Linked DNA regions of Homo sapiens: region 2 is linked to region 1. Evidence: fine-mapped expression QTL. Tissue or cell type: sun-exposed skin. Region 1 holds a variant in brackets; the other region holds the start of a gene. All regions are shown on one strand. Distances are between the middles of the regions.

What was found. PIP is the estimated chance that this variant, and not a neighbour inherited with it, causes the effect.
Region 2: it holds the start of PARVB, and the variant in region 1 is fine-mapped to the expression of PARVB in sun-exposed skin (GTEx, PIP above 0.99). The same link has a PIP of 0.9 or more in unexposed skin.

The regions. Positions count from the first base shown.
Region 1 is chr22:44,086,698-44,089,452 of GRCh38, forward strand. The region is part of intron 1 of PARVB (parvin beta); the gene reads left to right. Among named protein-coding and RNA genes, the nearest start is that of TRU-TCA2-1, 63 kb to the right of the region's middle. The variant G/C (reference allele first, on the strand shown) is at 1,304.
Region 2 is chr22:44,023,218-44,025,717 of GRCh38, forward strand. PARVB (parvin beta) reads left to right here and starts at 1,085. Exons shown (of 13, transcript NM_013327.5): 1 at 1,085-1,234. The coding sequence starts at 1,123. RefSeq lists silencers at 953-1,062, 1,093-1,212, 1,283-1,332, 1,383-1,592 and enhancers at 2,363-2,442, 2,453-2,500.

The sequences.
Region 1 (2,755 bases):
CTTCACTGAAGTACAACTGGACTTATTTTTAGAAAAACTGCTCTGTTAAGAAGACCTTCGTGCCTGATGAAGTTAGTTATTCTGATAAATTACAGCTTCTACGAAGAAACCACACCCCTCTGAGTACGGATGGAAGTTGGAAAATTCATAGAAAGCTGTCATTTCCTGGCAGAGGCCTGGAAAACCTCATTTAACAGAGATGTCTTTGGGTTCCTGCTTAAGCCCAAGCGAAGGATCCCGATGCCCCCTCCCCAGCTGGGAAGAGGAGCTGGTGGCGTGAGTTGGCACAGAGCCGCACCTTTCTTTCTCCTCCTGTATCCTCCCGCAAGCTCTGAAGACCACTCTGTTTCTTTGAGCAGGATCAGTTGTAACTAGAAGTGGGTAGGATTTGAAAAGGGCTGGTTAAGTGTTTAAAACTGGGGCAGCTTTCCTGCCATTTTCCAGTTCTTTTAGATGTGCAGGGATGGAGAATGGCTGTTTTTGTTGGGGTTTTCTCTTTGATCCTGGTTCAGACGGGGCCCTCTGAAATTTCTCGCCCTGATCTTTTGTTCTCTATGAAAACCAGGAATTGCACGGATGGTGTAGAAAGTCCCCGTAGGTGGCAAAGCATCTCTGCTGTGTTGAAATGACACACTTAGAAAAGTGTCAGAAAATGGAGTTGCCATTGCTCTGGCCCCCCAGGACCTGTGGCTCAGCCTCCATTGGGCCTTTGTGTCTGGGCCAGACCCTCCAGGCAAGCCCCCAGTGAGGCTCTTGGGCCCGTGATTGCAGGGGCGCCTTGCCATCCCCCGTGTCCTGCCCTGGTTCTGCTAGTGGAGCAAGAAGCTGATCAGCCTTTGTGTTTTCAGATTTCTTCTCTCCGTTAAGGTAACCTTGTTCTTTAAACCAGCTTGCTTTCAAAGTTGTTTTCCTAATAATATCAAAAGGGGGAAAAAAAGCTGCCTGAAAATCCTTTTTTGGGAAAGAGCCTGGGCATAAATAAATAAATACAACCATACAAAGAAGAAGATTAAAAAAAAAAAAATCAAAGATGGAACTTTCGCATTTGGCCTGAGGTATAAATGGCAGGCTTCTGATGACATGCTTTTAGTTTTTGATTCTCTTTCTTTCCTTTTATGTTCTTGTAATTCCAAATCAGGAACGATGGTGTTTTTTTTTTTTTTTTTCTTTTTTCTTTTTTTTAAACCTTGCCCAATCTTTGGGTGGAGGCTTTGGAAGCCGCACATATTCCACCATTATAGTTACTCAAAGCTGACGCTTCCCGAGGGGTGGCTGCATGCTGGCGACTGTGCCGAGGGTGTGT[G/C]TCCCTGAATCTTTGTGATCTCTCTGAGGTGTGTTAGGCCCCACTTTACAGATGGAAACTGAGACACACAGAGCCGTCAAGCAGCTTGCCCAAGGTCACACACCTTGTCAGTGGTCAAGCTGGGATCCAAAACCAGCAGCCTGGCTCTGGGATTCTAAGCTCTCTGTTGTGCTGCTCCTTGAATATATTAAAAGGCCTACTATGTGCAGGAACTGGGTTGGCACTGGCAGGAAGGCAAGTTCGGGAAGGAGATAGTTACATGGCTGTGTGGCTTCAGCTGGGGAGAGGGGAACACCCAGGAGGGCTTCTTGGAGGAGGCGGCCAGTAAGATGAGGTTGAAGATAGGTAGGATTTAGTAGGGCACAGTGAGGTGCAAGATCAGGTAGAACTGGCTTTAGTCCTGACTCTGGGGCTTCACATCTAACAGCACAGGACCAGCCACTCCCTCACAGACTTGTTTATTTATTATTATTGTTATTATTTTTGAGACAGACGGAGTCTCGCTGTGTTGCCCAGGCTGGAGTGAAGTGGCACAACCTTAGCTCACTGCAACCTCCACCTCCCAGGTTCAAGCAATTCTCATGCCTCAGCCGCCCAAGTAGCTGGGATTGCAGGCGCCCACTGCCACGCCTGACTAATGTTTGTATTTTTAGTAGAGACAGGGTTTCATCATGTTGGTCAGGCTGGTCTCGAAGTCCTGACCTCAGGTGATTTGCCCACCTTGGCCTCCCAGAGTGCTGGAATTACAGGTTTGAGCCACCGTGCCCGGCCTCCCTCAGACTTGTTAGGAGACAAGGTGAATGGCTGGCATGGAAGATGCCCTGCACATAGTAGGTGCTCAGGAAACGTTAGTGGTGCTCTCCCCCTTTCCAATGGACAGTCAGCAATATGGGTTGGACAAGTATGTTCTGTAATCCGAGGTTGTGTGCCCTCTGGCTGGCCCACAAAATTTGAATTAATGGCTCGTATTTATAAATGGGGAGATTCCACACCAAACCCCACATTTCCAGCTTTTCTTGAAAACTCAGATCTGGTGACTGCAGCCTGCACTTCCCACTCTGCCATCCCGGGCTGAGCGAGGAGTGCCCGTCTCCAGAGACAGTGTGCCAAGGGGCCCTCCTCCTATCAAATGCCCTCCTGTCTCTCTCTTCCTACCTGGCCCCCCGTGCAGGCCACAGAGCGTGGTGCTGCAGGTGAACTCTGCTGCGGTGGGAACGAGTTGGCATCGACTCCCTCGTGGCTGGCTGCTGGGTTTCGTGTGGACAGAGACATTCATCTTAGAACAATGCAGACACTTAGGAAAACAAGCACAAGGCGGTCTTTTTCCCTTAATCACCCATCTCATGAAATCAAGCCCCAGTCCCTTGGAAGCTCACACCCTCCACACCCTCCAGACACTGAGAGAATGCATGCCAGCATGCCTGTGCCAGCGCGCCTGTGCCAGCACACCCG
Region 2 (2,500 bases), 64 kb before region 1:
CTGGGTATCTAGGCTGGGCATGGTGGCTCACACCTATAATCCCAGCACTTTGGGAGGCCGAGGCAGGCGGATCACCTGAGGTCAGGGGTTCGAGACCAGCCTGGCCAACATGGCAAAACCGCATCTCTACTAAAAATACAAAAATTACCCGGTCGTGGTGGCGTGCACCTGTAATCCCAGCTACTCAGGAGGCTGAGACAGGAGAATCGCTTTAACTCAGGAGGTGGAGGTTGCAGTGAGCCGAGATTGTGCCACTGCACTCCAGCCTGGGCAACAAAGCAAGACTACGTCTAAAAAAATAAAATAAAATAAAACAAAACAAAATAAAATAAAATAAAATAAAATAAAATAAAATAAAATAAAATAAAATAAAATAAAATAAAATAAAAATAGCCCTGTCTGGCAGTCCTCGGGATGAAGCCGTTTCCTCTGCTTCCAACACATGCGAGGCCTGTCTCCCCTCCTCTCCCCTCCCTGGCACCCCACACTGTCCCCAGGGCCTGCTCTTCTGCTCACCTCATGGTACCGGCCTGCAAGCCATTTCCTGGGGCCTCCCCGTCGCCTCTTCCAGAAACAACTCCTGGAACTCCCCTTGGAGGTCAGGCCAATGACCTGTGCCCCGCATTGCCCTCCATCCTCTAAGCTTCCCGTGGGTAGGGACAATTCCCAGTTCTGAAGGGCTCCCCCTGCCCCGGGCCTGGCTCTTGGCAGAAGCTTAACAACAGACCGGCCACGTTCGTGTGACCTGATTCTCTCCGGCTTTCAGGACGTCCTGAGGCTGCACCCACGTGGCAATGGTGTCTGTCGCGCTGTCGCCTGGATCCGGCACCACTAGCGGAGCCGAGCAGAGCCCAGGGCTCCAACGCGTAGGGAAAAGGCTGCGCCGCTCCCGGGGTGGCCCCACGCCCCTTCTCTGAGCTTGAGCGGCGGCGCGGGACGGGGACGGCTCTGGCCGGGACCAGCAGGCCTCGGGCATCCGGGACGCCGGGGCCGCGCTCCAGGCCAGGGGCGGGGGCGGGACCGGGGCGGGGGCCGGCGGCGGGGCCGCGCCCTCGGCCTCTCCCCGGGGCGACCGGGCGGCTCCACACGCGCTGCGCCCGCCGCCGGCCCCACGCGCGGCCCATGTCCTCCGCGCCGCGCTCGCCCACCCCGCGGCCCCGCAGGATGAAGAAGGACGAGTCGTTCCTGGGCAAGCTGGGCGGCACCCTGGCCAGGAAGCGGAGGGCGCGCGAGGGTGAGTGCGCGCCCGCGCCCGCCGACCCCCGGGGACCTGCCCGGCGGTGCCCGCCCTCGGCCCTAGAGCCCCACGAGGCCGCCCCCGCCCTCCCCCACGCACCCCGCCCGGCCCACGCGGCTGCGCGACCTTCGGGACAGGCCAGGCCTTTGACCCAGGACCCGTAAACAACGGCCGGGACCTGGCGCGTGGGGCCGCGGTGGCCTCCGGAGTCTGCCAAACGCGCGTGCGGGCGCCTGCGCGGCGGGGACCTCGGGCCACCGTGCGGGGCCCGCGCCTGCTCTGCCTGCCGGGTGTTCAGCTCTTCCCTGGGCCAGCGGCATAGCCAGCCGCGCGGGGTGACCGTTCATTCCATGAGCAGTGACGCTCACGTGTGCAGGGCACTCTGGGCAGACACGGCCTGGGGGACCCACTACTGGGTGTTGCGCGGGCGCCCTGCAGGGTGCGGGGCTCAGGGCGTGCAGGGCTGAGGCCTGGGAGGCCTGCGAGCAAGAATTGCAGAGATCCCATTAAAAATTTTTTTTTTTAAATTTTTTACTGCGTGTGCTCACGAAACACTACCAACCTCGTACGTTTTAAAGATTGTTAGAGTTGCAAGGGATAGTCTGGTGTCTTTAAGTGTACCGCTTGCCCAGGGCCTCCTGGGAGATACATTCTGGAATTTTCTGCTTGGGTGGGGAGGTTCTGCCCCGGGACCATGCCCTATAGTGAGATTTCGGATTGGTGAGAGGTGAGGGGAGCTGCTGTGGAAAGGCAGATGGAGAAAGGCCGGCCTCAGGTGGGTCCCCGGGAAGGAGCCCTCCCATAGCGGGTATGCAGTACGGTTTCCTTAAACCACCTGGGCCTGACATATCCCCTGGGAACTCTTCCTGTGCCTCCAGGGATTAGTGTACCCCGGGATGCAGGTCCCCCATTCATTTCTTCCCTGGGACTCTTGTATTCCTAGGGATGTGTGTGCCCCGGGAAGACATATGACAGATTTGCCTCTAGGCATGTGTGTGCCCCCATGCACCTGCTCCCCAGGATTTTTGTACAGTGCAGGGAACGCTTGGTTCCCCAGACATTTTCTCCCAGGGATGCCTGTGCCCCCAGGGATGCGTGTCTTCCCACCCGTGATCCTGTTCCAAGAGGGCAGGGTCTTGTCCCCTTCAGTAGGTCTCCTGGCGGATAGGTCACTCTTCTCTCAAGCCTTACACTGGAGGACCCACTGTAGCTTGTATTGGTCGGTGTTGGTCACGTCTCCTAAATGACATGATTAGTGGCTGT